3 linked regions of the Homo sapiens genome follow. The protein of the gene in region 2 interacts with the protein of the main gene of each other region in a pairwise test. Each region holds a gene or a part of one and is shown on either strand. Other genes may lie near its edges.

Region 1 (3,654 bases), on a different chromosome or scaffold from region 2:
TAGTAAGTTTGTTAGGCTTTTGTGGACTATAAAGTCTTTGTAGCAACTACCCAACTGTTCAGAAAAGCAGCTATGGACAGTAGATAAATGAATGGACATGGCCAGATTTGATCCAAGGACCTTAGTTTGTTGATGCCTGCTCTATATTCTAGTTTATTTTTATTTTTTGACAAAAACTGACAGGAGATATAATACTTTTTATAATTAGATGACCAGGGAGAAATAGAGAAAAAAGGCAGAGAGAACTTGTTTAGATTTTTGGTCTAGTACATATTAATATATTTTTAAAATACCCCCATCTCTGATTTTAGCTTCATATCCAGGGGATTCATTATTACAGTTGCATTTCCAGTACTTTATGTGTGGTTTAACATTATTTGAGTTTTGATTTGTTCATATGACTTTTTTGTTTTCCCTCTATAGTGAAGCCCAAGAGCCAAAGGAATCACCACCACCTTCTAAAACGTCAGCAGCTGCTCAGTTGGATGAGCTCATGGCTCACCTGACTGAGATGCAGGCCAAGGTGAGTGCAGGCCAAGGTGAGTGCAGGCCAAGGTGAGTGCAGTCCAGATGATAAACAGGGCCCATGGGGTCACCAGTTTATCTTTGTGGAACTCAGCTCTCCATTCTCCCACTTAGGAATTTTCCTAAGTTGTCATTGCTTTTTTCAGACTAAATTTAATTCCATGAATTAACCCATCTTTGTACTATGTGTTATTTGGACACAAAAATTAATATATAATACAGACTTTGATCTCAAGGAGCTGGAGTGTGCTTGGCAAAATGAGGCATAAGTTTCTTAACATTTATAGAATAAAAGCCAGGTGTTTTGCAAACATATGTGGAGCAAACATTACGGATATAGAGAGATTTTGGAGATTTAATCAGAGTTGAAACTTGGGATGGACTCTGAAGAACTGGCAGAGTTTGGACATAAAGAGATGGGAAGAAAGGTGGTTTTAGTTGCAATGAGTCCTGAGGGCAGAGGTATCTAAGGCTTGATGATGTGGAAGGATTTTTCATTTGTTTGTTTGTTTGTTTGTTTGTTTTTGAGATGGAGTCTTGCTCTGTTGCCCAGGCTAGAGTGTAGTAGCGCTATCTTGGCTTACTGCAACCTCCGCCTCCCAGGTTCAAGCGATCCTCCTGCCTCAGCCTTCCGAGTAGCTGGGATTACAGGTGCCCACCACTGTGCACGGCTCATTTTTGTTGTATTTTTAGTAGAGACGGAGTTTCACCATCTTGGCCAGGCTGGTCTCGAACTCCTGACTTCGTGATCCACCTGCCTCGGCCTCCCAAAGTGCTGGGATTACAGGCGTGAGCCACTGCGCCCGGCCAAAAGGACTGTTAAAGAGACCTGACTAAGCAGGACAGAGGAGACCAGTGAGCAAGCTGAGACACAGCAAGGGAGATCAAAGTATGGCTCTGACAGTAGGAAGGATGAGAAGTCCCAAGCCCATATTGAGATAAAATCTGCCTCTTTGTTCTAGCCTCTAGAACACCTCTAAAGTGGTGAGCTCACATAGTCGGGCATGGAATGGAAATCTCAGATAAATGGGCTTAAAGATTTATTAAAGGAAATATAATCCAGAATCCTTAAGGTGGAGAATCCAACCATTTTAAATCTGGTTGGAGGATTTGATATATACTCATGAGATGACTATGAAATAATTTCAAAGCAGTATATAAAAATGTATATGATTGGAGAGGGCAGGGACCTTATCTTTAGAGCTCACCTTGGGACTCCCAATGCTCAGCACAGGGCCTGATACATCGTGAGCAACACATATTTATTAGAGAGATGAGTAAATAAACATCACAAACAAGTTTTCCTTAATGACTGACATCCTTTGATGGGCCAGTGTCTACAATAAAGCTGGGTAGATTGGCTCATTATGCTGTATATCTGAAAATACTAGAAAAAATGTACATTAGATTTAATTGTGTTGCGTTTCTAGTTGATTTAGCTTGTGTATTGGTTGATTTAAATTTTTAATTTACAACACCATCTTTTTTTTTTTTTTTTTTTTTGAGACAGATTCTTACTCGGTTACCCAGCCTGGAGTGCAGTGGCATGATCTCGGCTCACTGCAACCTCCACCTCCTGGGTTCAAGCGATTCTAGTGCCTCAGCCTCCTGAGTAGCTGTGATTACAGGCGTGTGCCACCATGCCCAGCTAATTTTTGTATTTTTAGTAGAGACGAGGTTTTGCTATGTTGCCCAGACTGGTCTCAAACTTCTAAGCTCAGGCCACCTGTCTGCCTCGGCCTCTCAAAGTACTAGGATTACAGGCATGAACCACTGTGCCCGGCCCCATTTATCTTTTGAATAAGCTGCACTTTCACATTGTACACAAATCAAAAGTGCAAAAAGCTTGCACTGAACTGTTTCCTTCTCAGCTCTGCACCCTAGCCATCCAGTTCTGCCCCACCGGAGATAGGCAGAATTTCCTGTCTCTTCTATATCTGTTCAGAAGTATTCTGGAAGATAACAGTGAAGAGATAGAGATGTAGGTGTAGATGTAGTTATATTGTATTTTTACTTATTTTTCATAATTAATGTCAGTCACCCTTTCAGACCTTTCAGACACTAACCTTCTGAACACTAACCTCTTGAATATTAACTAACATATATTAGAGAAGGAAGGATGTCTGTCAGATGATCAAAATGTCTCGAAGCAAAATGAGCATTTTGATTGGTGACAGTGTGATGTTATAACAGGCAGTAAAAGTAGGATAAGTAGAGGTCTTAAGGCAGACAGTAACAGATCACATTCAGGAGATGAAGAGCCCAGCTGTCCTTTTACAACATAGTATTAATAAAAGATGAAATTGGGAAAGATAAAAAGGGAGGACAGTGGATGGGAGGCTTTGAATGTCTGTCTGATGAGTGAAGACTTGATGTGGTGGCAATGGAGAGCCATTGTAGTTTTCTGATGAGTGAAGTATTCAGTAGATAGATGGTAGCAGTCGCCCAGCTGGAAAGGAGTAGAGAGAGCCAGAATCAGGTTATGAGGTTATGAAGGGTCAGTTAGCCTTTTTTTTTTTTCTTTTAATTTGAGGATCCTTCTTTGAATGGTTTATAATAATTTTGGGCTTTTGCTTAAATAATTCCAATCCATCAACAAGTCTTATCTGACCACTTCTCACCACCTTCTCCTGTAATACTGATCTAAGTCATTATCTGAAAATCTCCCTGTATTCACTCTTGCTTGTCAACACTTAGTTCTCCACTCAGCTACCACAGGGATCCTCCAGATTCCTTCACTCCTGTGCTTGAAATCCTGCAATGGCTTCCATCACCTTGGAATAAAACCCAAGCGTTTACCATGAGGTTCCTATGTGATCTTTGCCTCTCTCTCCATCACCTTCTCCTGCCGTGTTCAATCTCACTCCCTCTGCTCTAGCCCCACTGACCTCTTTGACTTTTCTTCTAATGTGCCAAGTTGTTTTATTCCTCGGGGCCTTCCCTTCCCCTAGAATGCTTTTCCCATAAATGTCAATATTTCTAAGTCCCAAGTATCTACTCAAATATTACTTCCTTAGAGGGGCCTTCTTTGATTATTACCTCCATCTAAATCAATTCTTCTTACCATCTTGCTGTGTCCCTTCTATCTCTTTCTATAACTTATCTCTGTCTGACATTACAACATATATT
Region 2 (3,146 bases):
CAAAACACTCATTCCAAGGAAGGGACTGGTAAAGTGACAAATTTGCCCAATCCTGTACAACATCCTGCATCCTCCACATGTGGCCCTGTTGCACATCTAATCCACAGGCAGGTCACTCGCTGCTGACTCTATTCTTCTCTGGGCTCCTGGGACGTATAAATATGACTCTATGTAAGAAAACCAGAGGCTGGGCGCAGTTTGCTCATGCCTGTAATCCCAGCACTTTGGGAGGCCGAGGCGGGCGGATCACGAGTTCAGGAGTTCCAGACCAGCCTGGCCAACATGGTGAAACCCTGACTCTACTAAAACCACAAAAATTAGCCGGGCGCGGTGGCGGGCGCCTATACTCCTAGCTACTCGGGAGGCTGAGGCAGGAAAATTGCTTGAACCCGGGAGGCGGAGGTTGCAGTGAGCCGAGATCGCGCCACTGCACTCCAGCCTGGGTGACAGAGCAAGACTCCGTCTCTAGAGAAAAAAAGAAAACCAGACAGATTAAAAAGTTGCACTTACAAAGCAGTTGGGGCATTTATTGACATTTAAACAAGGGAGGAGATCCTGAACACTAGTCTCGCTCAGTTTATAAAAACTTGAGGCCAAACTCTCCATCATCTGTACACAGCTTAACCACGGCCAGGAGCAAGAATTCGAGTTAAACGAATTGAACCAGTCCAACCACAAGACGATAAAGGGAAACAGGGCGTGGGGATTTCCAGTTTTTCCTTTTACATTACAAAGTTTCCAACACAAGAAGCCAACAATACCCCAGTGCTGCACCAAGTTACTTCCCACTGTTTCCCAAGGCACAGTCAATTAATAATCAGTAGTCCAAGTTCTAAGAACATTCCCTGGAAAACAAGGACGCACCTCCCGTGGCTCTATGCATGGCCTGCCACTGATGAATCAAATTCTTAAGAACCTACGACCGTCTGATACCCTTGAGGAGAGCACCCTCATAGAATCTCCAGCATCAGGCCTCAGTTTTCCCATCTGTAAAAGACAGCCATGCAAAGTGGGAGATCCGCTAGGCTTCCAGATCGAAGTCATCGCGCTCCTCATTGTACTCTAGCACGTGCCGCTTGATCTTGGACGAGTCCACCCAAGTGACAAAGTCCTCCATGCTGCGCGTGACAAGGAAGGCGGGGTCGGTAACCACGTCAGGGCCCACGCGTACGTGCCCTTGCTCCACAAAGGCCACGGCAGCCTGAAGGTGCTGCGCCATGCGCAGCTTGAGGAGCACGGTGGGGAGGCGGCGGCGGCAGAAGGACGAGGCCGTGACGAAGTCGCAGAGCTCCAGCGAACCGCGCGTGGGCACCAAGCCGAGAGCATACAGCTTGTCCAGCAGCGCGGCCGAAGCGCGCACGCGGAACTGGTCGCGTTCGGGCAGGTCGCGCAGGCGCCGCGCCAGCTCACGCACGGCACGGCTCAGCTGGTTGTAGCGCGTGTAGTCCTCCCGCCGCTGCAGCCGGTAACGCCGCAGCACGCGCAGCTCGTGCAGGTTGTGGTCGGTGACCTCCCAGTTCAGGAAGTCCACCTGCTTCAGCAGCTTCTGCTCGTGGAACTTAAGCTTCCGCACCATGATGGCGGCAGCCGCAGCCGCAGGACCCGAAGCTGAGAGCGCGTTCTGGCATCCGCGCGATTTCCGCCGCGGCGCCCCAAGACCTGGACGGCCTGGGACCCTGGGCCAATGAAAGAAAGACTTAAAGTCACGCCCTCACTTCCCATTGGCCAGGGTGGGACCACGCCTCTGCACTGGGATCTCGCGTTTCTTCTTTTCTTCGCGTTTGCGAGGGAGGGGGTAGAAGCACCGGAGGTGGGTGGTTGGGAGCGGGTCCCTAGGCGGTTCCGCGCGGTTTTTAGTAGCCAAGACTGTATCCCTTTCTGCGGCAATCATTTCCTCCTAGACTTCTGTCCTTTGGGGACTTTCAGAGTCTCCCCCGCAAGAGCTGAAGAGGCCATTTCTGGGGAAGAGGGGTGACTGCGGCTTGTTGATTGGGTTTACTGTGCTAACTTGCACTGGGCTCCTGCCATGCCTTGGGGGAGCTTGCCGGAGCCGGCTCTCCTGGGGCTGACCTGGTAGTCCCCGCCGCCCGCCAGCGTCAGGTCCTTCACCTGGCATGCAGAGCGATCTCTCATTGTCAAGTTGGGATAGGTGGCACCGAACCCATGAAATACTGATTGGCTGCTTCCTAGGCCCACAGAAAAGGGATCTATAAGGGAGTCGCCTGGAAATCTGTATTATTAACTAAAGTGTCAGATGATTCATAAAACCCAGCAAGTTTGAGAAACTTGGACTATAACTACAAGTCCAAACCCTTTAGTCTGTGCTCAAATGAATTATCCTGACATGAATTTCTGGCCACCAAGCATTGAGTTAACAAATTTAATGCTGTTTCCGCTAGTTGCATCTGTAAGTTACATCTGAGTATAGCGCTGCAGACCTAACCCCTTTTTGCCCGGGCATTTGACGCCACCTAGCTTCTCACTGATCATTTTTGTTTTGTATGCTTTTCATTGTCTTTTACAATACAATATTTGAGGGTTGGGCGCGGTGGCACATGCCTGTAATCCCAGCACTTTGGGAGGCTGAGGTGGGAGGATCATTTGAGGCCAGGAGTTCAAGACCAACCTAGGCAAAAAAAAAAAGAAAAAAGAAGCGAGATCCCACCTCTGTAAAAAATCTTAAAGAATTAGCCAAGCATGGTGGTGCGCACCTGTAGTCCTGACTACCTGGGAGGCTGAGGGGGAAGGATCATTTGAGCCCAGGACTTGTAGGCTGCATTGAGCTACAATGGTGCCACCGCACCCCAGCTTGCACAACAGAGCCAGACCCTGTCTCAAAAAGATATATATATATATATAAAATATTCGATATCTGGAAAATAATATAATATGTAAATTATAAAGTATAATAAATACTCATAAACTTAGCCAGTTTAAGAAAACATCACCAGGCTAGGCATGGTGGCTCATGCCTGTAATCCCAACACTGGGAGGCCAAGGTGGGAGGATCACTGGAAGCCAGGAGTTCAAGACCAGCCTGGGCAACATAGTAAGACTCAGTCCCTATGGACAAAAAAAAAAAAAAAAAATTAGCCAGGCATGGTGGCAGCACCTATAGTCCCAGCTACTGGTGAGGGTTTCGGGGT
Region 3 (3,654 bases), on a different chromosome or scaffold from region 2:
GGCTAGAGTGCAGTGGCGCGATCTCGGCTCACTGCACCCTCGCCTCCCGGGTTCAAGCAATTCTCCTGCCTCAGCCTACTGAGTAGCTGGGACTATAGGTGTGTGCCACCATGCCCGGCTAATTTTTGTATTTTTAGTAGAGACAGGGCTTCACCATGTTGGCCAGGGTGGTCTTGATTTCTTGACCTCATGATCCATCCACCTCGGCCTCCTAAAGTGCTGGGATTACAGGTGTGAGCCACCGTGCCTGGCCTTTTTTTTTTTTTTTTTTTTTTTTGAGACAGAATCTCACTCTGTTGCCCAGGTTGGAGTGCAGTGGCACGATCACGGCTCACTGCAATCTTGATCTCCCAAGACTCAGGTATTCCTCCTGCCTTAACCCCCAAGTAGCTGGAACTACAGATGAGCACCACCATGCCCAGCTAATTTTTGTATCTTTAGTGGAAATGGGGTTTTGCCATGTTGCATAGGCTGGTCTCGAACTCCTGGGCTCAAGTCATACACCTACACCAGCCTCAGCCTCCCAAAGTGTTGTGATTACAGGCATGAACCACTGCACCCAGCCTGAGATTCTTAATTTTAATGAAGTATACTTTATCAATCTTGTCCTTTATGGTTACTGCTTTTTGTGTCCTATTTAAGAAATCAATGCCTAACCTGAGAATATGAACATATTTTTCTGTGTTGTCTTATAGCAATTTTATTTTACTTTTTGCAAAAAAAATTTTTTTTTTTTTCAGACAGGGTCTGAAGTGCAGTGGTGCAGTCTCAGAACACTGCAACCTCCGCCTCCTGTGCTCAAGCATTCCTCCCACCTCAGCCTCCTGAGTAGCTGTGACTACGACTACAGGCATATGCCACCATGCCTGGCTAATTTTTGTATGTTTTGTAGAGTCAGGGTTTCAACATATTACCCAGGCTGGTCTCAAACTCTTGGGCTCAAGCAATCTGCCCTCTTCGGCTTCCCAAAGTGCTGGGATTACAGGTGTGAGCCACTGTACCCATCCCCTACTTTTTGCATTTAAGGTATATAATTTAGAGTAAATTCTTGATGAATCGCAGGGGTCAAGATTCACTTTTTAGGCCGGGCGTGGTGGCTCATGCCTGAAATCCCAGCACTTTGGGAGGCCGAGGCGAGCGGATCATGAGGTCAGGAGTTTGAGACCAGCCTAGCCAACATGGCGAAACCCTGTCTCTACTAAAAATACAAAAATTAGCTGGGCGTGGTGGCGGGTGCCTGTAATCCCAGCTACTCAGGAGGCTGAGGCAGGAGAATCGCTTGAACCTAGGAGGCAGAGGTTGCAGTGAGCCGAGATTGTGCCATTGCACTCTAGCCTGGGCGACAGAGTGAGACTCGGTCTCAAAAAAAAAAAAAAAAATTTACTTTTTTTTTTCTTTGAGACAAGGTCTCACTGTATCACCCAGGCTGGAGTGCAGTAACATGATCTCCACCTGCTTTGACCTCCCAAAGTGCTGGGATTTAGGCATGACCCACTGCACCGGGCCAAGATTCACTTTTTTCTATATAGACGTCTGTTTGATCCAGCACCATTTATTGCAAATACCATCCTTGTCCATCTGCACTGTGTGGCACTTTTTTTCATAAATTAGATAACAGTATGGTCAGCTAATTTATGAAATTAGTGTGGGTCTGTTTCTGGATACTTTGTTCTATTTGTATATTTGTCATCCTTGCACTAATATCACTGTATTAATGTAACTTTATAATAAGCTTTGATATGTGGTAATATAAGCTCTCCAACTTTGAGAGGTGGGCAAAGAAAGTGGGCTGTGGGCAGGGGCTGCTTTTCATCAAACACACTTCTGTTTAACCCCTTGGCTTTCAGCCTTGAGCCTTACTTTACTTTTCTTGAGTCTGGAGTCTCACAGGTGTATTAGTCTGTTCTCATGCTGCTATGAAGAATACCCAAGACGGGGTAATTTATAAAGAAAAGAGGTGTAATTGACTTACAGTGCCATATGGCTGGGGAGGCATCAGGAAACTTACAACCATGGTGGAAAGCACCTCTTCACAGGGGAACAGGAGAGCGAATGAATGCCCAGCAAAGGGTGAAGCCCCCTGTAAAACCATCAGATCTCGTGAGAACTCACTCACTATCACAATAACAGGGTGGGGGAAATTGCCCCTTTGATTCATTTATCTCCACCTGGTCCTGCCCTTGACATGTGGGGATTATTAACAATTTAAGGTGAGATTTGGGTGGGGACACAGAGCCAAATCGTATCACCAGGTCAGAGTTTCTAGAAAATAAATTTATGAGATAGGAATGGTGGCAGAGGAGGGAACCTAGACTAGAGTCCAACTGTACCTTACATAAACTTTAAACCATTTACTTTCTCTTTAGCCCCATGCCTCTCCACTGACCCTATACCTGGGAACTCCTAGGCTCCTAGATTCTGAGCCTTTCTGTGATTCTGTGAGTTAGCCAAATCAGCTTGCTTCTTTTTATTTTTTAAATTAAAAAAATTTTTATATCACTTTATCTGGCAGCCTTCTTCTGAGCCAGAATAGGCTCAGAGAGACTCCTCAGCTTGTTTCTTGATTGTATTCCCTTTTGCAGGCCAGTAGGTTCAGCCTCCTCTACTCAGTCACTTATTTCTCCATCTCTTCTTGTTTCATGGGTGCCATATCTGTTCTTATCTCTCTGAGAATGTTAAAAATCGTTTTCTTAAGCCTTTCTTTTTTTTTTTTTGAGACGGAGTCTCAGCCACCCAGGCTAGAGTGCAGTGGCGTGATCTCGGCTCACTGCAGCCACCATCTTCCGGGTACAAGCGATTCCCCGTCTCGGCCCTCCAAGTAGCTGGTATTACAGGCATCTGCCATCATGCCCAGCTAATTTTTGTATTTTTAGTAGAGCCGGGTTTTCACCATGTTGGCCAGGCTGGTCTTGAACTCCTTACCTCAGGTGATCCGTCCACCTTGGCCTCCCAAAGTGCTAGGACTACAGCTGTGAGGCACTGCACCTGGCCTAGACCTTCTTTTCCTTGCATAGTTTCTTCCAAGTTACTTTTTTTCCTATTTGGTATAGTCTTATTAGTAGAGGCCCTCCTCGGAAGACTGGTAATCCTTGGTTGTCTGTTCATGATTAACAGTGGGCTACTGAAAGCTGATGGGAAGTCCTGAACTTGTAAGTAGGACTTAAGGACATGTTGTTTTACCCTATATTCTAGAGTCTAAAGCAGTGATTCTCAGCTTCGGCTGCACATTATAATCACATGGAGAATTAAAAAAAAAAATCCCTGCTGCTAATACGTCAGAATCTCTGAGACTAGGTCCCAGGTAGGGATAGTTAAAAAAATTAGGTGTGGCTACATACAGTAAAATGCACAGAATTTAAGTGTATAGTTTGATTTTTACCATGTAACCGATATAAGATGTAGAGCATGGCAAAAAATTCTAGAAAATTCCTTCATATCCCTTTCTTCTGTTGTCTCACTCCCAGCCTAGAGGTGACCACTATTCTGATTTCTATCTCCGAAGATTAGCACCAGTATTTTTTAAAGCTGCCAAGATAATTCCAGTGTGTAGCCAAGATTGAAATAATTGATCTGGGTGGATTGTTTGAGGCTGTCTCCACTGTATTTATCTTTCCTTTTGTCCCAGTCATATTTTCCAGAGAGTATCTTCCAGTT

What was found.
Region 1: the proteins of IMP3 (region 2) and LPXN interact in a two-hybrid assay, tested with the Homo sapiens proteins (one large-scale study listed by BioGRID and IntAct).
Region 3: the proteins of IMP3 (region 2) and EVI5 interact in binary tests that used the Homo sapiens proteins (3 or more experiments, as listed by UniProt).

The regions. Positions count from the first base shown.
Region 1 is NC_000011.10:58,551,710-58,555,363, reverse strand, and holds part of LPXN (leupaxin), read left to right. Parts: intron 1-423; coding exon 424-523; intron 524-3,654. UniProt on the Homo sapiens protein: Transcriptional coactivator for androgen receptor (AR) and serum response factor (SRF). Contributes to the regulation of cell adhesion, spreading and cell migration and acts as a negative regulator in integrin-mediated cell adhesion events.
Region 2 is NC_000015.10:75,638,593-75,641,738, forward strand, and holds IMP3 (U3 small nucleolar ribonucleoprotein protein IMP3), read right to left. Parts: upstream 1,633-3,146; 5' UTR 1,577-1,632; coding exon 1,022-1,576; 3' UTR 501-1,021; downstream 1-500. UniProt on the Homo sapiens protein: Component of the 60-80S U3 small nucleolar ribonucleoprotein (U3 snoRNP). Required for the early cleavages during pre-18S ribosomal RNA processing. Part of the small subunit (SSU) processome, first precursor of the small eukaryotic ribosomal subunit.
Region 3 is NC_000001.11:92,778,578-92,782,231, reverse strand, and holds part of EVI5 (ecotropic viral integration site 5 protein homolog), read left to right. Parts: intron 1-3,654. UniProt on the Homo sapiens protein: Functions as a regulator of cell cycle progression by stabilizing the FBXO5 protein and promoting cyclin-A accumulation during interphase. May play a role in cytokinesis.